4 separate regions of the Homo sapiens genome follow, and regions 1, 3 and 4 are each reported to be linked to region 2. The links are microRNA targets in miRTarBase. Many come from high-throughput screens and were not tested one by one. Region 2 holds a microRNA gene; each other region holds the end of a gene's coding sequence.
The links. Region 2 holds the annotated microRNA hsa-miR-4801 (UACACAAGAAAACCAAGGCUCA, at 2,977-2,998, opposite strand). A microRNA usually pairs through its seed, bases 2 to 8, with sites in the 3' UTR of a target mRNA and lowers its output. Matches are read on the target gene's strand: a 7mer-m8 pairs with bases 2 to 8, a 7mer-A1 pairs with bases 2 to 7 and ends in A, and an 8mer does both.

Region 1: the mRNA of NMRK1 is a reported target of hsa-miR-4801. Seed matches in the 3' UTR shown: 7mer-A1 at 764-770 and 7mer-A1 at 1,034-1,040.
Region 3: miRTarBase lists CCDC43 as a target of hsa-miR-4801. Seed matches in the 3' UTR shown: 7mer-A1 at 1,301-1,307 and 7mer-m8 at 1,953-1,959.
Region 4: the mRNA of ROBO2 is a reported target of hsa-miR-4801. Seed matches in the 3' UTR shown: 7mer-A1 at 4,362-4,368, 7mer-A1 at 910-916 and 7mer-A1 at 903-909.

Annotation. Positions count from the first base shown.
Region 1 is chr9:75,056,437-75,061,947 of GRCh38, reverse strand. NMRK1 (nicotinamide riboside kinase 1) reads left to right here. Exons shown (of 9, transcript NM_017881.3): 9 at 381-1,371. The coding sequence ends at 400. Among named protein-coding and RNA genes, the nearest start is that of NMRK1, 29 kb to the left of the region's middle.
Region 2 is chr4:37,238,935-37,244,499 of GRCh38, forward strand. MIR4801 (microRNA 4801) reads right to left here and starts at 3,057; the gene lies at 2,976-3,057.
Region 3 is chr17:44,674,539-44,680,103 of GRCh38, reverse strand. It overlaps CCDC43 (coiled-coil domain containing 43), which reads left to right. Exons shown (of 5, transcript NM_144609.3): 5 at 1,061-2,664. The coding sequence ends at 1,248. It overlaps MEIOC (meiosis specific with coiled-coil domain), which reads right to left. Exons shown (of 8, transcript NM_001145080.3): 8 at 4,303-5,565. LOC105371792 (a long non-coding RNA gene) reads right to left here and starts at 1,140. Exons shown (of 4, transcript XR_007065769.1): 1 at 1,055-1,140.
Region 4 is chr3:77,645,265-77,650,829 of GRCh38, reverse strand. It overlaps ROBO2 (roundabout guidance receptor 2), which reads right to left. Exons shown (of 28, transcript NM_001395656.1): 28 at 866-4,776. The coding sequence ends at 4,775. Among named protein-coding and RNA genes, the nearest start is that of LINC02077, 400 kb to the left of the region's middle.

The DNA of each region.
Region 1 (5,511 bases), not on the chromosome of region 2:
TTTAAGAAAAGGGATTAAAGTAACAATACTTTCCCCACATCAAGGATAACACTCCAAAACAAGGATTATACTGCAGACAACTACCCTTTGTGGTTTTATTCTAGTCTTCAAACTATATCATTCTCTGAAGTCAAGGATTACTATACGAACTACAAGTGATATTGGATATCTATCTGATATTTTAAGGTATGCTTCAAATTTAATGCAGGGATTAAAAGAATGGGACTTGGACTCAATTTAGTTCTTTACAGGAAACCAGCATTTTTGGCTCCAGAATCCCTCTAATTTAAACATCCTTAGATTTACTGTTGTTGATGTAAAGATTTAATAAAATGAGAATTGGAATTCTCCATTAATTTCTTTTTATGTTTATTCCCAAGGTTTGCAAGTGACAGCATAAAGACGGAACACAACAAATCCTTCCTGAAGTGAATTAGGAAACTCCAAGGAGTAATTTAAGAACCTTCACCAAGATACAATGTATACTGTGGTACAATGACAGCCATTGTTTCATATGTTTGATTTTTATTGCACATGGTTTTCCCAACATGTGGAACAATAAATATCCATGCCAATGGACAGGACTGTACCTTAGCAAGTTGCTCCCTCTCCAGGGAGCGCATAGATACAGCAGAGCTCACAGTGAGTCAGAAAGTCTCCACTTTCTGAACATAGCTCTATAACAATGATTGTCAAACTTTTCTAACTGGAGCTCAGAGTAAGAAATAAAGATTACATCACAATCCAATATCTGTGGAATTCATTGTGTATGTTTATGTATTTGTGTGTAGGTGTGTATGTGTGTGTGTGATACATACATACATCAAGTATCACAAGACATTGACCTTATATATTATGCACTGTGATGTTTTTCCGTCTTTAATTATAAAAAACATATTGATCACAACCACAATTTGGAAAATGTTGCTCCATACCATCCCATACCAACACTCACCACCTGCAAATAATAGCATTACTAGGAGCTGCAGTCACAATGAATAAATCAACAATTCGCTACAAGATCTAGGATTATTTGTGTATTTTGTTGAGTGTGTGTGTGTGTGTGTGTGTGTGTGTGTGTGTGTGTTGGCGTGTATCTAATACCATTGTATCTCATTGTTGAGACTTTGTTACAAATAGGGTTTCTGGTTTCTTTCTCCCCCCTCGTGGTTCATTTTGTTTTTGTCAAACCAGTGGTCTAAAATCACAGAAATAAGCAATTACTTCAATCATGTGGAATCCAGGGGACCTATCTTTGGAAAGCACAGAAGGAGATCTGAATTGTGTGATCTCTTGAGGCTGCTTTCAATGCTGGAATTTAAATTATGTACTGAACAATCTTTTGCTTATTAATAAAAAGATTACACACAACCATCTCAATCTTTTTTTTATATATACTTTAAGTTCTAGGGTACATGTGTACCATGTGCAGGTTTGATACATAGTTATGCATGTGCCATGTTGGTTTGCTGCACCCATCAACTCATCATTTGCATTAGGTATTTCTCCTAATGCTATCCCTCCCCCAGCCCCCCACCCCCGACAGACCCTGGTGTGTGATGTTCCCAGCCCTGTATCCAAGTGATCTCATTGTTCAATTCCCACCTATGAGTGAGAACATTCAATGTTTGGTTTTCTATCTTTGTGATAGTTTGCTGAGAATGATGGCTTCCAGCTTCATCCATGTCCCTGTAAACGACATGAACTCATCCTTTTTTATGGCTGCATAGTATTCCATTGTGTATATGTGCCACATTTTCTTAATCCAGTCTATCATTGATGGACATTTGGGTTGGTTCCAAGTCTTTACTATTGTGAATAGTGCCGCAATAAGCATAAATGTGCATGTGTCTTTATAGTAGCATGATTTATAATCCTTTGGGTATATACCCAGTAATGGGATCACTGGGTCAAATGGTATTTCTAGTTCTAGATCCTTGAGGAATCACCACACTGTCTTCCACAATGGTTGAACTAGTTTACAGTCCCACCAACAGTGTAAAAGTGTTCCTATTTCTCCATATCCTATCCAGCATCTATTGTTTCCTGACTTTTTAATGATCACCATTCTAACTGGTGTGAGATGGTATCTCATTGTGGTTTTGATTTGCATTTCTCTGATGACCAGTGATAATGAGCATTTTTTCATGTGTCTGTTGGCTACATAGAAGTCTTCTTTTGAGAAGTGTCTGTTCATATCCTTTGCCCACTTTTTGATGGGGTTGTTTGTTTTTCTCTTGTAAATTTGTTTGAGTTCTTTGTAGATTCTGGATATTAGCCCTTTGTCAGATGAGTAGATCGCAAAAATTTTCTCCCATTCTGTAGGTTGCCTGTTCACTCTGATGGTAGTTTCTTTTGCCATGCAGAAGCTCTTTAGTTTAATTAGATCCCATTTGTCTATTTTGGCTTTTGTTGCCATTGCTTTTGATGTTTTAGTCATGAAGTCCTTGCCCATGCTTATGTCCTGAATGGTATTGCCTAGGTTTTCTTCTAGGATTTTTGTGGTTTTAGGTCTAACATTTAAGTCTTTAATCCATCTTGAATTAATTTTTGTATAAGGTGTAAGGAAGAGGTCTAGTTTCAGCATTCTACATATGGCTAGCCACTTTTCCTGGCACCATTTATAAATGGGGAATCCTTTCCCCATTGCTTGTTTTTGTCAGGTTTGTCAAAGATCAGATGGTTGTAGATGTGTGGTGTTATTTCTGAGGCCTCTGTTTTGTTCCATTGGTCTATATATCTGTTTTGGTACCAGTACCATGCTGTTTTGGTTACTGTAGCTTTGTAGAATAGTTTGAAGTCAGGTGGCGTGCTGCCTCCAGCTTTTTTCCTTTTGCTTAGGATTGTCTTGGCGATGCGGGCTCTTTTTTGGTTCCATATGAACTTTAAAGTAGTTTTTTCCAATTCTGTGAAGAAAGTCATTGGTAGCTTAATGGGGATAGCATTGAATCTATAAATTATCTTGGGCAGTATGGCCATTTTCACTATATTGATTCTTCCTATCAATGAGCATGGAATGTTCTTCCATTTGTTTGTGTCCTCTTTTATTTTGTTAAGCAGTGGTTTGTAGTTCTCCTTGAAGAGGTCCTTCACATCCCTTGTAAGTTGGATTCCTAGGTATTTTATTCTCTTTGAAGCAAGTGTGAATGGGAGTTCACACATGATTTGGCTCTCTGTTTGTCATTGGTGTATAGGAATGCTTGTGATTTTTGCACATTGATTTTATATCCTGAGACTTTGCTGAAGTTTCTTAACAGCTTAAGGAGATTTTGGGCTGAGACAATGGGGTTTTCTAAGTATACAGTCATGTCATCTGCAAACAGGGACAATTTGACTTCCTCGTTTTCTAATCGAATATCCTTTATTTCTTTCTCTTGCCTGATTGCCCTGGCCAGAACTTCCAACACTATGTTGAATAGGAGTGGTGAGAGAGGGCATCCTTGTCTTGTGCAGGTATTCAAAGGGAATGCTTCCAGTTTTTGCCCATTCAGTATGATATTGGCTGTGGGTTTGTCATAAATAGCTCTTATTATGTTGAGATACATTCCATCAATACCTAGTTTATTGAGAGTTTTTAGCATGAAGGGCTGTTGAATTTTGTCGAAGGCCTTTTCTGCATCTATTGAGATAATCATGTGGTTTTTGTCATTGGTTGTGTTTATGTGATGGATTACGTTCATTGATTTGCATATGTTGAACCAGCCTTGCATCCCAGGGATGTAGCCAACTTTGAGACAGTCTCACTCTGTTGCCAGGCTGGAGTGCAGTGGTGCGATCTCGGTCACCGCAGTCTCGGCCTCCCGGGTTCAAGCGATTCTCCCACCTCAGCCTCCTGAGTAGCTGGAACTACAGGCGCATGCTACCATGCCCAGTTAGTCTTTGCATTTTTGGTAGAGACAGGGTTTCAGGATAGTCTTGATCTCCTGACCTAGTGATCCGCCAGCCTTGGCCTCCCAAAGTGCTGGAATTAGAGGCGTGAGCCACCATGCCCAGCCAACTTTCTCAATCTTTAAAATATATTGTTACATTAACCATTCTCTACAGACTCAGTCAACTCTCATTATTTCTTTATTTCTAACTAGCTTGCACTCACTTGGTGATGACCAGACAGTTCTTTGGATCCCACACACTACAAAAAATACAAACAAAAACAAAACCCAGGCTCAAATTATAGTTCATCCACTCAGTAGCTATGAGTTCAATCAAGCTATTTAAAGTTTTGGTTTTCTCTTTTTAAGATAAGGGATATCAACAGTATTTAGAATGGGTGTAGGGTAGAATAAGGATAAAGTTCAAATATTTTAATGTGGCATCCAAGGCTTTCTCTGATCTGGCTTCTGTGTACCTCTCTATCCTCATTTCCCATCAGAATTGGGTCATATAGTCACTTCTCCCTGCAAGGGAGGCTGGGAAGATGTCATGATAGTTTCAGACCAATTGTGACTCTGCCTTGGGATGTTGCCACTGATCAACATCAAGGATCTTTTAGTGAGGAAATAGGAAAGCCACTGAAGATGCCTACCACGGCCTTTTTCTGCATAACTTCCCTGGCCATGATTTTATCAAGTTTGGGTTGCTGTAATTTGTGTTATTAATACATTAGGAGAATTTTGTTTTATTTTATTAGGATAAAAATAGAGTATAGATATGATTATTAAACTTCACTTCTAAGAATTTCTGAGATGCCCTCTTCTCCCCCTTCCCACTGCAGAGGCACGGCCCTGCTAATTGAGAATCATCAGTTTTCTCCCCATTTCAGCATATGAAGGTCAGAGAAAATATATCTTGCGAGAAAAAAATGCATCAAAAAGGAAAACATTCCAGTAATTTTGGGAAGAAATAAGTATATTTTTGCTCACTAGTATCAGTGAGAAATAAATAGGAATTTGAAATAAGAATACCAGTGCTTCATTTCTGTATGCACTGATTCACATTACAGTTACTCTTTATTACAGGAGTTAATGGTGGTACTGTTATCTATTTAGAAAGATACAATACATATTTGACAAGGAGCACATGTGCTGAAGTCTTCACTTTCTGTGCATAAATAACCCCAGTCCCTTTAAGATGAGTTTGCTGTAGGAAGGCTTCATTGTGTTTAGTATTAAATTAAACATGAGTTCGATTTCAAAGGTTTGAAAGATGCACAGACCATTACACTAAAGGATGAGATTCAAGCCAAATGGTTTATCTTTTAAGTATATGCTTGTGATATATGACAGTCACAAAATGTTGAGGTATTAGTCCAACACTATATCTTAGTATTGAAATTGAAACTAAAGCTGTCCAACACCATGCAACTACCTGGTGACAGGACAAGTCCACAATCCTGACATCATACAAGCATGCACACATACATTTTTCATTTTAGACAAAGTGCCGAGACCAGCTCGGTCAGGGAGACCCTAACCCAGCGGTGCTAGAGGAATTAAAGACACACATATAGAAATATAGAGGTGTGCAGTGGGAAATCAGAGGTCTCACAGCCTTCAGAGCTGAGAGCCACGAACA
Region 2 (5,565 bases):
AACTATAAGAATGGTGAGAAAAGGAAGATGGCAAAGTCATAGTAGTTTTTCAGAAAGTAGAATCCAAATAAATATATTTAGAGAGACTGTTATAGAATCATCATCTATATTGAATTTTTGCAGAAAATATGCAAATTGCAAAAATATGCAAATAAAAACACTTTATCCCATTAAGGTATTTTGAAAAGAAAAGCAGATTCAAAATACATTCAAGCTTCATACTATTCTAGCTAAGTACAAGCACTTAAAAAATAAGAAAACAATGATTGACCTGGACAATATATTTAAGATATTTGGGCCATGTCAATATAGAGTACTGTAAAGGGAAGATTTCCTTCTTATTCATGTGGATTTAGTGTTACATGATGAAAAGACTCCATCTAGCATAAGGGTGAGATAAATCTGGTTCACATTCTAGCTTTGCCAACTTATTAGCTATCTGAATTTGGACAAGTCATTTAAAGTCTCAGCCTCTTGTACTTATCTACAAGACTGAGTTGTTAGCAGAATTAAAAGATGTGGAAGTTAGCTTCTGCTCAATAAAAATATGAGTCAATGTAAATAGGCAATGTAGCTAACATTGCCATCCAAGTAGAGTGTTTTATACACCATATTATTTGGTTTGCCTACCCACCAGTATAAATTTTATAGAGAAGTGCAAATGATGTTTAATCAATTTGGCTAAATGGATCTTGTTATACGTTGGCAGCCACGTGGTATATTATAAATGATCTATGGCTTCATGTTCGGAGATCTAGTTTTGACATTGGCTCTGCTATCCAGCAACTGAGTGAACCTAAACATGCCACTAAAATCACTCGAGCTTCACATTAAAAATTGGAGAGGAGAGGGAAATAATGTTAATGCAGAACCCATTTTAGAAGGTTAGACTAAAAGTAAATGAGCTAACATGTATGAAAGTGCTTTGTAAAAAGCAACTCTCCAAATAAGTATCAGATGATGAAACAAGCAAGAGGAGGGTTTTGTAAGGTACTGTATTTGAGATTGTCATGAAGGAGAAAAAAAGAAAAACAACCTTGGCAATTACAAAATGAAAATAAAATATTTAATTTAGAAATACAAAATAATCTACAAACTTTTACTTCAAACTTCTTTAACTTTCTTCTACTTTGTGTGGCATGCATAGTGCTCTCATAGCAATGTGTTTAGAAGGTTGTAAGAGGAAGGCTGCTCAAAAAATACATTACGCAGATTTGGAAGGGGGTGGAGGTAAAGTTAGAATTTCTGAGTCATGAAAACATCAGAGCGCTTTCTGAAAGGTGTAACTTTATTTAAAACTGTGCTGCTGTGAATTCTATCATGCCACAGACACCTCTGAATCAACAGTCTCTGTTGGCAAATTGTTATGCTGACAAATTCTCACAAAGACTGAAAATTTCCATTTTGTAAACAAATAAGTGGGTTCCTAATGATCTAGCTTACCACCTAGAACTTTGAAAAGTGGAACCCTGGCTTGAGTGACCCTGAATAATCTATTTCTCACATTAGCAAAGCAGATTCAATTATTTATCACCCAAATCATAGAGCCACTGTATGAATGTAATATTAAGTCTGATACTCTTCTTCAAGCTAGGGAAGCAAGAACAGCACATCACTGACTTCACTGGGTGGAGTCCCTAAAATAGTAAGAGTGGCATGATGTGCTAATGTGGTCTTCTTCATGACACTAGGGGCTCTATTTCACTTCTATCCATAACAGAACAAATTTATTTCATGGAAGAATGATCCACAGGTTTCCTGACCAGGATATTTGATGTACACACATGGGAATGCACCTGCAGGCAAATACAGGTTGGGTGATGGGCACTCTTTCTGCTGGGTCACAGTCAGTCACAGGGACTCTAGTTTTGTGCCTTTTGATCACTACCTCCAGCACCTACGAGGAATGAACTGGACATGTGACATAGCCACGAAGCTGGGGGAAAAATCATCAGCCATCACAGTGAAGGGAAGTAGGTGAGGTACATGTGCATACCATAGACTTCGGAGCAAGCAAAGTGCACATATGTTACAAAAGGTAATGAATGCACATAACAAAAGATATACAGGAACAGTAGTGTCCAAGAAGGGATGTCAGACTTGGAGATAGGAGGTGCTGGGCCCAGACCCTCGATGTAGTGCGATTAAATGAGATGCCTATTAAAAGCCTAACAGCAGGTCAAGAATATGGGAAATCCTCATATATCAGTATTATTAGGAAGTAATTTTCTTTCCACTCATTTAATAAAATTACAATTTGGGCATCACCTACATATTAAAGGGGGTTTCATTTCATGATCACAAGGCTCCTTCTAGCTCAGTGAGTAGAATGAAGCTAGTGGTAATTTTACCTTTGGGCACCCTTGTTTTATAAAGAGCTAGCTCCCATTGTTTTATAAGGATAAGGCACCTGTCTAGCCTACTAATTGGTGGTAGCGTGAGAGGATGGAGAGGGGAATGCTTGTTTTTGATCACAGTCTTGGTCCCAGGCTCATTTTTTCATGTACTTTCACCTTCCCATTTCTAGATGCTTTAAATTCTCCAGCCCATGTCTGGGATGGTACAGATTTACCTGTGGTCTCATGAAGAAAGAGCAGGACCCAAAAGAAACACAGAATCTGGAAGTGTTTGTCATCAGATCAACAACCTAGAAGTTGGAAGAGTCTAGTCCTGTGTGATCATGAAGACAATGATCTTCTTTCCTATCTAGAAAGCAGAAATGATATCCAGCCTTCCACACCTGTGAACACAGGCCTGAGCACCCACTGTCCAGGTTAACAAAGATGTCCTCAAGGGCCAGACCTGAGCAAAATTAGAAAATAGAGGTGGTATGTTGCAAGAAGCACTGGAACAGAAGCTGTGATACCTGGATCCTGGCTCTGCCATTAACTCATTATGTGACCTTGAACAAGTCATTTCACTTGTTTTGAGTCTTGGTTTTGAGTCATTTGACTTGGTTTGAGTCATTTCATTTTTTGAGCCTTGGTTTTCTTGTGTAAAGTGTTTTAAACATAAGAAATGTTATTACATTTTACACATAAGAAAACCAAGCCTCAAAAAAGTTAAATGACTTGTTCAAGGTCACATAACTCATTAATGGTAGAGCCAGGATCCAGGTATCACGGCTCCTGTCATGGTTCAAAAACTCCCAGTATTTATGGACAAGAAGAAAACGTTTAGAAAATATTTTAATCGGATATAAAAAAAACAAAGTTGTCTTGAAAATCAGGGTCAGCCTTCCACAATCATGCCCTCTCCCTCTCATTTGTCTCTCTCTCTCTAATTCTTTCTTTCTGGTTCCTCAGGTTAAGAAATAAATCTAAATAATTTATAATAAAGTGTTATCACCATAGGTGACACCTCCTTTATTGGTATTTGTGTGCTAAGAAATCAATATCTGGTGTTAGGATGTCAGATGCTTGCAAGCTGAAGAATGTGGAAGAAGATTGTTTTTGCATGTACATGCGTGTGTGTGTGTGTGTGTGTGTGTGTGTGTGTGTATGTGTGTGTGTTTTGAGGGAGGTGAGTAATTGGTATCCTTCTTAGGTAGAATACTCCAAAGACAGCAGCCTCTCTAGCTGAGGCAAAGCTGGCTGTGCAAAGAGCCTTTTACAGCGTGGCCCACAGACAATGTGAAATTCTCTCTCCTCTGCAGCCTTGGTCTGCAGTGACACTGGCAGATGCTAAACTTCGGCCTGTCTAGAACAGTTAATTAGGTTATAGAGGCTGCCAAAAATCCCAAAGTCATCCAAAGAAAATGCAACACTTTGAGATCTGAAGCAAAGGTCAGAAGACACAAACACTAATCCTATTTCTGAGAAGAGAGAAACAAACAAAGAAGTAAGAGAAAAAAGAAAGGCAGGAAGGCAGGTCCCTGACAATCTGGCAACTTCTAATCACTCTTTTATAAACAATATTGAGATCAGGCATAAAGTGATCCTAGCTCTTTTCTCCAGTAATAGATACTGTATATTCATACACGATGATATGCAATAAATACCGCATATTCATGACCTTTCCACAGCTCTCAGTCCATACCTCTTGAGACAATAGAGGATCTTTCAGGGACCCCCTTCCTGCTGAGAACATTTCCACCCGAGAATGACTCTGGAGTGAAGAAATTGAATCAATTAAATAACTGGGTATGTTCAAGCCTTCTTTACGGGTTGCATCAAATTATCACAAAGTAAGAACTGCTGCTGTCTGCCCCCTGGTTCTCAGGAGTGGAGAGGCAGCCTTACAAACCTAGAGACCCAATTCTTCCAAAGAGGTTACCCCAGAACGTGTGTGTTGGGGCTGGGGTGGGGTAAAAAAATGAACAGCAGTGCATAGGACTTCACTGCCACCAGCAGGCCCCAGAGGAAGTGCAGGCCCAGAGGAGGCCGGGCTGCTTAGGTTAGGACCATCCAGGCAAGAAGAGAACACTTGCGTCTGAACTGCCTCACCCTGTGCCCGCCCACCCCTTCCCCAATCTCAGAGATTTGGAAAAACTGTTCTTCTTCCCTAAAAGACAGGTGTTCCTGCCCAGAAGCCCAGAATAAGTGATTTATTGACTAAACTGCAATTAAGGCTACAAACACTCCCTTCTCCCTGCGCCGTTGGCCCCCAACACAATTACACTTTATTTTGCGAGGTCTTCGTTCCTGTCCTGGCTTATGCAGTATTTCCATGGGTGCAGTGGAGTGGAAGGGAGACGGCGATTTTACATCTGGGTCCCTCTGCGTCTCATGTCACCTAGGACGTGGACTGGACCCCTGCGCCGTCCACCTTGAGCCCGGAACCCGAGGACGGCCCCGCGTCCTCTGTGGCCGCCCTGGATCAACTTCAGGTGGAGCTGACCTACGCGTTGCACTGACTTTGAAGAGCGGCTGAAGCGCACACAAGAAGCTGCTGCCCACAGCCAGCTCCGATTTCTCGCACCCCGGTCCCAATCCACGGCCACCTGCACTTTGCGTAACGTTGCGCTGGGGGGCGCTCCAGAGAACCCACACCCTCCCGCCCGGCCCAGGTGCGCACCCGGCCGCGCGGGGCTCCAGCAACCTGGCGGCCGACGGGCCCGGGAGCTGTCAGGCGAGCAGAACAGCCGGTGAGTGCGCCTTGATGGGAGCAGAAAGGCCCCTAGGAACCTTGGAGGCCTCGGAGGAACTACCCGCGGAGATCCGCTCCCAGAAAGGTTCCGGGACCACGCGGCGAGGAGCACGTGAACGGCGCAGCTTGGCTATAAAAACCCCGCTCAAGCGCGCGTGGGGAGCAACCGGAGCGGCAGGACGCTGCCACCTGCGCCAGGAGAGATAGGGATGAAGCGATCGTCCCTCCAGGACGCCAGAGACAATCTGGAGACTTGATGCTTTAAACTCTCCGGGTCTGGCTTGGGGTTGTGTGCGTCGAACTTTGAGGCTGGATTCCCTGCACTTGGGCAGAGACGCACAGACGCCCGAGCGTGTGGATTCCCGAAAATTCTCAGGGCTTGTGTGACCTTTAGGAGAGTTGGAGGGGGCGTAGTAGAAATCTCAGGCTAATTGATTTCTTGTCCTCCACCACGGAGGCAGACAGGAGCCCTCGGCT
Region 3 (5,565 bases), not on the chromosome of region 2:
CAGGAGGCTGAGGTGGGAGAATCACCTGAGCCCAGGAAGTCAAGGCTGCAGTGAGCCGAGATCTTGCCACTGCACTCTGGCCTGGGATATGAGAGTGAGACTGTGTCTCAAAAAATAATAAAATAATGTTGAAATTTTCTCTTTTTCCTCAAAAACCTTATAATTTGTCAGAGAATACAAACACCAAACACTTTTTTTTTTCTTTTTTTTGGGACAGAGTCTCGCTCTGTTGCCCAGGCTGGAGTGCAGTGGTGCGATCTCGGCTCACTGCAGCCTCCGCCTCCTGGGTTAAAGTGATTCTCCTGCCTTAGCCTCCCGAGTAGCTGGGACTACAGGTGTGTGTGCCACCATGCCCGGCTAATTTTTTGTATTTTTAGTAGAGACGGGGTTTCACCTGTTAGCCAGGATGGTCTCGATCTCCTGACCTCATGATCTACCTGCCTCAGTCTCCCAAGTGCTGGGATTACAGGCATGAGCCACTGCGCCCAGCCTAAACTCATTTTCTATCTCTTATAGATTCAGTGTGTATGGTTATTAGAATGTGGTTTTCACTTCAGCTTTAGTAGTCTAGGAACAAAAGCAAATTGATAAAGTTTAATAAGGTTAAACATCTTATTTAACTCTTTTAAGGCATTTTAACAGAGCCAAGTACATAAACATTTAGTCAGTTACATTACTACTCTGTTCACCAAAACTAGCCTAGATTCTCTAATATTCTGCCATTGAATGATATAAGTACTTATTCTAGAATGAAATTTCATTTTGATGAAATATTTTGTTTTCTTATTTTTTTGTTTCTTTGGTAAAATATTTTAAAATTCAGATTTAGGTAAATCTGAATAAGAGTTTTATTCCAAAGGACATTTTAAAACTTTTGTAATATAGCTTTAGGATTTCTCTGTTAGACCAAGGATAAACATAAGGGTTTTTTTTAAAAAACCAGGAATAGATAAAGACGATTCAGGACTCAGCAGGTGGAGAGAGGATAAGTAGAATGAGGAAAGGCAGCAGTAGGTGTGATCTGTGTGACCTGTACCCTAATCCCTTAACTCACCTGTAGTTCTGTTCCGAAACACCAATGTGGAAGATGTCCTTAATGCCCGAAAACTGGAGCGAGACTCACTTCGGGATGAATCCCAAAGGAAGAAGGAACAGGACAAGCTGCAGAGGGAGAGAGACAAACTAGCCAAGCAGGAGCGCAAGGAAAAGGAAAAAAAAAGGACACAGAGAGGGGAGCGAAAGCGATAACCTTGGCCTACTCTATTCTTTCCCCCCATGAACTTATCAAAGGGAGAACTGGTTGTGTATTTAAGAGAAATGAGAGTGCATTGCAAAGTAGTTTCCCAAGGCATTTCCCCTATTGTTTACATGGTCAAAAGGAAAATCAAAATCACTTCTAATTACAAAATGTGCTGTTTTGGTGGGGTGGGCAATCAGATTATTATAGTTGATGACTGTACCAAAGATCTGGAATGGGGGCCACCTTTATATTTTAATACTCAAGTCCTGTGCTCCTTTTGGCCACTTTAAAAAGTCTTCCCTCACCTTGGATAAATAGGATTCAGAAAGCTAACAGTTTTCATTCTGAAGGAGCAGAAACATAATCAATCCCTCCCTGAGATAAAATGTGGGCATGCACATTGCTTTGGAGTCAGTATTCAGCTGTAAGTGTAGTATTGTTTTATGGCTGAAATAGAAAGCTAATGAAGAGGCCTACCTGGATCCAGATTTTATGTTAACATGGCAGCAAAACTAGGAAAATGGGAAGAAATTACTTGCGGGGTGTTCTAGATCTGATTTTTTTTTTTTTTTTGAAAGTTTCAGCCTGTGGGAGGAAAAGAGGTATCTTTTAAAATAGAGATAGTTACATATTTTCCTCATCTAGGCTGTGTCACTATTGGGTGCAAGGATATCATTGTTGGCTAGATTCATTTTGTATAATCATGTATCCTCTTGTGTGCTGGTAGAGATTTTAATCCTGATTTTTCCATAAAACATGAGTATTAAGAAATAATTCCTGGTTTGGAGAAACTGGAGAAATCACCCTTTTAAGGAAGAAACACTGGAAATTTCTGCTAACACCAAGATATTTAAGAGTGTACATAGTAGGTGCTCAACAAATTTATTGAATGAATGAGTGAATGGAAAAACTGGGAGAGTCAAAAGTGAGCAGAAGCTCTCCATTTCTACTTCTGTCACAAACCACATTAAATTGTAAATAAGGCCCTTCTCCACTTGACTTCAGGCAGCAGATTGTCTAGAAGCCTAAGGACAGCAATTTCTCTGACAAGACAAAGTAGATATTTTATACCAGGGGTTGGCAAACTACTGCCCACGGGCCGAATTTGGCCCAGTCTGTTTTTGTATGGTGCAAACTAAAAATGATTTTTACATTTTTAAAGAGTTATAAAAGAAAAAAATATGTGGTCTGTGAAATCTAAAATATTTACTACCTGGCCTGTTGGAGGAAAGGTTTGCCAATCTCTGTTTTATACCATTAACTATGAGATTAACAAAAACTTTTACCTTTGTGCAGAAGGTTAAAAAAAAAAAAACATGGTTAAGGAAAAGGAGACATGTTACCTCTTCATACACTCCTATAACTGTGGCATTGCAAAAAATAAAAATAACCACCTTTAAAAAAATAAATCTTATTTAAATTGCTGTCTTCTGACTTATTTTGATTGCTTCTACGTACCCATGGAAATGAAATATGTGTGAGTAGTTACTTAGGAATGTGTTGATTTTTATTTTATGCTTTGTTTTGATTAGCCCTATAACTTATATTCCACTAGTGGAAGCTCTTCCTGGAATCCATAAATCCTCTTTCTCAATTTTCCTTTTTGTGAAGTAGGAATTAGATCAGAAAGATTAGCATGTTTTTTGGAACATCAGGAAATTGGCTTAGAGGTCCTTACTATTACAGTCTTAGTCCTTTATGTGGTGGTAGCGATAGGGTATGATAGAGCCTATTTTAATTTAGTAATCCTTATTTTGGGATTTTGGGTTGTTCTCACCTTGATTTTTGTCACTGAAGGAGTCAGGTTATATCCACGGTCCCCTGAAGGGTACTTGTTTCAATTTGTTAGTAGTCAGTTCTTTCTTCTGGGACTCTGCTATGTATGTCACAGTTAAGTATACTCTCAAACTAATGCTTAAACAGAAAATAGAGGATCAGCTCATTAGGCTTTGAGTTTAGTTATCCACTTGACTCAGGTGCTAATAAATCCTTTACGTCTAAAATGTTCAGTATTGCAAAGGGCATATTTTTTTTGTTTGTTTTTTGAAACGGATCACTCTGTCACCCAGGCTGGAGTGCAGTGGCGCCATGTTGGCTCACTGCAACCTCCACCTTGCGGGTTCAAGTGATTCTCCTGCCTCCCCCTCCCAAGTAGCTGAGACTACAGGCGAGTGCCACCACACCCAGCTAATTTTTTGTATTTTTAGTAGAGATGGGGTTTCACCGTGTTAGCCAGGATGGTCTCGATCTCCTGACCTCGTGATCCACCCGCCTCAGCCTCCCAAAGTGCTGGGATTACAGGCGTGATCCACCGGCACCCAGCTGCAAAGGGCAAATTTTAAACAACCATATCTTCTATGGTAAGATTGAGTTTTAGGCCAGATTTTGGATTTCAGTCATAAATTCTCAACCCTCTAAAACTTTATAGTAGCAGATTATTCAAGTGAGAAGGACACTGATAACAACTCAAGGTAATTTTGCTTTTTCCATTAAAAAGAATGAGTACACCAAGTTCTTTCAGATTAGAAATGGCGGGAGCATCAGTTTTATCAGTTTCACTGCAAATTTTGTAAAAGTTTTATAATGTTTTCATAGGTTGTAATTCAGAAGTACAATGTTTTATAGGTTGTAATTCAGAAATACAAGTACATAAGAACCATCTGTTAGAGGATATGCCACTGAAAGGGACAACCGACTAATTTAAAAATTATCTATTGGGTGATATGATTAACAATATTTCAAAGAATTTTTTTAAGTGTTTGGTTCTTATTAACGGACTGGTATTTCATTTCTGACCAGTATCATGTAAAAGCTTCCCTAAAATTTTTATTCTGGTTTACACGGATTAGCATAAAGATAGAGCAAAAATTTCATCTTTGAAGGAGATCTGGTTAGATCCATGGATATCTGAATGGCATTGATTTATAAACCAACATTATTACTTGTGCGTTAATAATGAAATCTAAAACTTAGTATAAGTTCTTAAATGAAATTCATTTGACTTTCTGATATGAGTGACTCTTAAGGTTAGAAACATATGAATTTAGAAAAATGAAACCAAATGTTTTCAACAAAGTAATTTATTTTTTTCCTGAGACTAAATTCAGTACAGTATTTGTTTTTATAACATCCAACATGTCTTATGTTAAACTTAACCACTTTCTATGCAGTGACTGTGGTGAGATGATCTATTTTATTTGACTACCCTCAATGTAATTCATTTGGGTAGTTCTAAGGCATATCAGTGATCAAAATGTTTCTCCCTACAGTTACTCTTGCATTCTCAATCAGTTTCTTCTGCACATCATCTAAAGAAAATTTATGTGGTATGATTACACTCTTTTTTTTTTTAATACCAGAATTTCTAAAACTAAGAAAAACACTAACATTTAAAACATCAGTGTTTCTAGTCAAGGATATTTCAATTAAATTTCATCAGTACATTATAGTTTAACTCATGCTAGAAATGTTAAAACCCAAGATCTTCTGAGTCACATAATACCAACATTTCATATTAACGAATAAATTACTCAAGTTCTATACAAAGATACTAAGTGATGAGAAACAGAAAAAGTTAAGCTTTCAATAGTTTTAAAAAAATACAGAAGCAAACTAATGAACACAACTACGCAAAATATAGGCTAACCAATTGCAAGCTAAACTAGTTAGAGATTAACCTTTAAAAAATACATTTTAGAACTTAGAAGCAAACTAATGAACACAACTACACAAAATATACACTAACCAATTGCAAGCTAAACTAGTTAGAGATTAACCTTTAAAAAAATACATTTTAGAACTTCGTGACACCCTCATAAAAGGCAGCAAACTAAGGGTATTAAAACAGTAGTCATTATTTCAGTTACTGTGCATCAAGTCTAAAAGATCCAGATAAAGGGAATGTTTTGTGATTCAATTTAAATAACTTTAAAATTGGAAACATTTAACAATTGATAATATAATTAAAATTTAAAGAATATACACAAATGATCTGAATAGGTTTTATATTCAGTAACTTGCATGGTTTTTACACTGACACTTTTATCATTAATTTAGGAGAATCAGATGCATTTCCCTCCATATACCTAGGCATTAAGATTCCAAATTTATAAATATGGTAGTATAGTATTTTAAATATTAAGTTTGTACATGAATATTGGGTTTATCCGTATTTTCCTTTGTTTCCCAGGTATTATCCAGTTTTGTAAGGAAAACACTTTGATATCACAATCAAAACTTGTCTTGGTTACTAGGCTGTAGCCGTAATTGGGTTACAGTCACTTAGATTCATTATTTGGAATTATACTTAACTAAGACAAACCTAA
Region 4 (5,565 bases), not on the chromosome of region 2:
TACACTTTTGCCATTTTATACACAAATTCCATAAAGGAACAGTTGTTTTTGTAATTGTCCTACCATTTATCATATTGACATACTTTGTCTTTAATCATATATATTATATTTTGTCACTGTATTATATTAATGCAACATCATTTGTCATTACAGTAATATTATTTTATTCTCACCTTATTAATATAAATTAAATGAAACTCTAAAATGTGTTGTCCTAAACCTTGTATTTTTAAAAATATTTTTCAATGAGTGTCTCAGGATTTAACCATAATCTTTTTCCTTTTTTCTGTCACTAGTATTATTATTTTAAAGAATACAGAAACTGCCTCTCTTTATTTTTGGAAAAAAAAATTGAGCCTATAGTTGTACTTAGCAGTGAAAAAGAATGCAATATTTATGAAATATAATAAAATGGGGCATTTTTCTTTTCTACTCAGTCCCTGAGATAACTTTTCAACATCCAGTATAAAAACATCCAAAATAAAAGAAATTCATAATTATTTCTTCTAAAGCAATTGAGAAAAATTCATTTTCTCTCAATTTTCATATTTACTTATACTTTCAAAAATAAGATATTTGTTTTAAATCTATCTAAAGGTCTTCATGGTATGGGGAAAGTAGCAGTGCTGATAGAATGGGGTCTGTATTTCAAATGCTTGCTGTATTCTTTATCAGCGTCTGTTAGTCACTACTAAAAGTCAACACCAGTTCCTATTTATCACTATTCAAACCATAACTGAGTGAGAAAACTGAGATTATGCATTTAGTCACAAAATATTAATGCAGAGTTCTAAAAGTGGCTACCTGGTCTTTTTTTAGCATGTCTACAAACAGGTTTGTTTTACATAAATGGCTTTTCTACAAATTTGAAATGTGAATATATTTTATTTTTTCCCAGTGAGTACACAATACACAATTCTTTGACAATACTATTAACCGATTTTATGCCAATTTCTTCTCTGATCTAACAACATCAAATGAAACACATTAAGATTTTGGATGCTGCTTGGTGACTTAAACAAACTACAGTTAAAAAAAATCCATCTATAAAACAAAGTATAAAAAGTCTACCCACGGCCACAAAATCCCTTTTCTTGCAACACTTTAAAATCACAACAAATGCTTTTTAAATTATGAGATTTAAAAAAATTAGTAAATTGAACATCTTTTTTTAGAAAAAAGTATGGTGTTTCATTTGAAGTACACATTATAGAGAAGCAAAACAAAAGTAATTTCACCTCTAAAATAATGTGGAAAGACATGTTGCTTTAGAACAGTTCTTGCCATGTAATTCCATAAACAATATACAGAAGCAGATGAACAAATTAGTGAATATTATGTTTCTGCATATCTTTAATACTGATGCACAGTTGCTTCCCAGTAGTGAAGATAAACCACAGTTTAGAGTTCAATGGTACTGTTATCATTATATTGTCAATGGACAATTACATAAGTTTATTGAATAGAAATTGAGAGGTGTTCCATCAAAGCACATTACAAACTTTCAACTCAAATCCTGTTGAAAACATATTTAAATACCCAGAGCATTAAACTATGACATAGAACACCATTAAATCTGTTTTGTACTCAACGCAAGTAAACTTGCAATGGTTTTACTTTTCTTGGTTGTGTGATACCTTATATGTTGGTTTTGAATTTTCTACATTCTCCCTTGAACTGGATTCAAATCCTGTGAAGGAATCAATTCTTTTCATGCCCCTGTACTATCCCATCTTATTTTAAAAATCTCACAGGACATGTTTGGAAGAGGGGTAGGGCGACTCCACCTGCATACACTGGCATACCTGAGTTTGGGCACCAATAGAGCTATTTTCCCAAAGAAGACGTTTCCTGTTATGAATGAAGCTGTGCTTGTATTGGACATGATTGCATTGCAGCATTGCCTATGAGTGCAAGATCAGATTACATTCTCTCCCACCCAGATTTCCTCTTGCAGTCCTTATGCAGGCCTCCATTTAAACCTGCAAGAGTGAGCTCAGTGAATTTCTAATCATATTCATTGAATCGGCTATGAAACGAGAAACTGCTGTGGCTCTCATAGGTATTTGTATTTTTCTGTTGACATCTGACTCAACACTGATTAGTAGCTTTTTACTACTTTGTCAGTAGCAAGCTGACAAAGGCTTTGCTTTCCAGTAATGTTTCTGAATTCCTTTGTATAGCTACATACAGCATTTTATCTTGCCCTCAATCTACCTGAGGGTGATATTTTGGGTGCATAAATTGACTGCCCAATGTGTTTAAAACTAGGTTTAATAGGCAACATGGACTATTCTGAAAGAACATTCCAAGTAACCACAAGCTCTGCACTGACATAATTTTAACTACAACAGTTAATTTTTATATGCTGAAGACAATCAGGAAGGTATGATGCTATGCCCACGTTATTCCAAAAGTCATCTGCACACACATACTTCACTTTGAAGCCTTGGTTTATTAATCACCAACACCTGCCAGTTACCAGGGATCAAAGGCTATGTGTTGTATATGTAATGAACTAAGGTTTTAGACTAAACTGGGTCATAGAGAAACATAAAGAGGGAACACAAAACCTCTTCGAAATTTGTTTGCCTTTAAATAGAAAGAGGTTAGGCAGGGAACTTCATAAAGAGATATTTAAAGTCCTCACATCCTAGAGTTGTGAATAAGTATGTATTCACTCTTTGAAGAAACTTTTCATCTTCCTCAGTCTCTTTGTCCCAGAGAAATCACACTGCATTAGAATTCAGGCACTGATGGTAGAAAGTTGATAAAGGGTTTAATAACTGTGTCTCAGAATTCTTTTTCTCTTCAGCGAAGAAATAAATTACATGGCACCAAAAAGCTGGTGGGGCCCATGAAGAACATTACATTCTATACTTGCCTGTGCTGATGCAGTCTCAGGGAATAGAAAGGATGGAAATGTTTAATTATGTCATCTCCTTGTTATAACGACGTGACAAAAATTGGCTACTGAGCCAATAATGCATGGAGTGCGAATTGTCACTCAAAGGGGTCCCGTATTTTAGAACTGATCCTAATCACGTTGAATATTTTTAGAAGAGTACCAACAACTGAACTTATCATAGGAAAAATTTGAGAAAGTATAGACAGAAATAAAATTTAAGATTGTGTAGGAAACCCATGGGAAAATGTCACAAGTGGGAATTTCAGGAAGGTCCTCTTCTACTTGACTGACTATACATGTACAGTAGCTAACATATATTTCAAAGTCACATTTATTCTGAGCATACATGACTAATGTTCAGGAACTTCTTGTTGTCAAAGTCGTGAAAACAAATGAGGCAGGACAATTATTAATGTCCACTTACAAGGTCTGGTTTTATTTAAAAAGTTTATAAACATGCATTTTTTTCTCCTTTTAAATTTTTCTTTTCAATTTCCTTATTCAAAATGGGTCAAACGTATTTTAGTTGGAAGCCAATTTCTGAGAATGTACCATAGAATATTTATTCCAATAAATCTACTTACTGCGAACTGAACATACTCTCGGCACTGTTTTTTAAGCACGTACAATTTGGCTATACATTGGGTGGCGTAAACTTCACTTCTTAATCAAATAAAAAACAAGTTGTATATAAACTGTATTATTTTTTAAGTCATGAATTTAAGTGATGCAGCTCTATCCTCTAGTGTGCACTGTACATGTATTAGAAAGATGAAATAAGATATTGCAATAGAGTTTATATTTGGAAACAGCCCGAGTATGCCCTAATAATAAATTGCTTCTTTAACTATTTGCTAGATATTCTAGAGTTCATTTTGTTCGTTTCCTTGGGGAACTTCATATTATATTCTGACTTAACGAGTTGGAGAGCTTAATTACGATAATTCAGAAAATGTTTTTAAAAAACTGTAATATAAATACAGCTCTTGCAAAACACCTTAATTTCCTCTTGCTTATTGTAATTCTCAGATGGGTCAATTACAATGACAGGTAAAATTGATTCTAAATAAAACTTTAATTTCTTTTTTTAAGCAAATTTATTACATCTTTGCTACCTGCATACTTTAATGCATATTCAGTCTTAAGACTTAAACTACTTTTTTTGACCCCGGCTTTTGTCAATAGTAAAAGCCACCTTTCTACTATTTTTTTTATTGACTCAGTCCCTGATATTCAAAGAAGACTTTGCCAACACCATTGTTCCTTTGCATCTTCCTATTTCTACACCCCAACTGAAAACCATCTAACATGATTTGTTACAGCCATCATTATCCAATCTAGCTTACAGTACAGAAACTCCCTTCACATTCAGTCTTTTTCTTCATGTCATGAGGAGTAGAGATTTGTGCTTATCACCAAATAAAATTGCAGTGCAAAATTTAAACATAAAAGTTACACAATTAAAAGTTAATATATGGCACCACAGCCTATTAATTCACATATAGTACAACAGACCAATAAGAACAGACAATAATATGAGCAGAGCTAAAAAGAGTGAGCTTGCATAGCAATGCACAAAAGAAATTATATACAGAGGAGAATCCTTTTCTTCCTGTAGGGCGAGTTTTGTTTTCTTTCTTTTTTATATACTCCTGACAAGAAAGAGTTAAGGTGGGTGGTGTACTTAAGAGAAGAACACAATGAAAATATCTGTGGGATATGTGTGGCTGTGTGTCTTTACATTGCATTTACAGTTCTTTTAATAGTACATAAATAAATTGTTCATTGCACTGTTTAGAGTCATCACTTCCATGAGTCCGGACCTGATGGTCCTTCAGAGCAGCTTTGTATGTCTCCTCTCATTTACTCTAAAGAAAGAGAAAAAAGTAGAAATAAAATATAAATTAAGCATTCTGCTTTTCTGACCAGCATAACAAAAAGCAAAGCCAACAGATAATCAATGAAAATAAGGTCTTCAGATAGATGAGTTTGTGAATTTAAGTAATTTTACTTGAAGGAGATGATCAAAGAGTAAAAGGAAAGAAAACACTATAGAATTTGGAAATGTAAACACCCAGTAGAACTATTTTGGTACTCCTGTGAGTCTGTCATTACTTCAAAAAAAAGTTAAAGAAAAATTCAAGTAGTTATGAATCAAATTAAAATTATAAATGAATCTTAATAATAGATTAGCAATAGTCAACAACAATGACAACTGAGATCAATAAAGAAATTTATAATTTTGAAATTATTTCTCTTTTCATCATCTCACAGAATCTTCCAAACAATCTGTGATGTGAAGATAATGGTAATGCTATTTTTCTGATGAGGCAGTTAAAAATATTCAGCAAATATGTTTCTGATAATGCAAAGCTGTATTGGTAACTTTCCTGAGGAAATTAACACAAGGAGTTCAACATTTTTTGCTGTGACATTCTTAATTTTCCCTATTACCTAGTATTTTACATTTAGAAAATTAATTGTACTAACTACCTATGCCAGTTTTCATTCATAAATGGAAATTTATTTATAAAATGTTATTGTAGTCAAAACATTACAATTTAATTAACAATCAAAGATCAACTCTTCAAGGGTGACTACCCAAATTTAAAAAATAAATATAGAGTAACTTGAAAATGAAGCATTCCTTAGGAGTT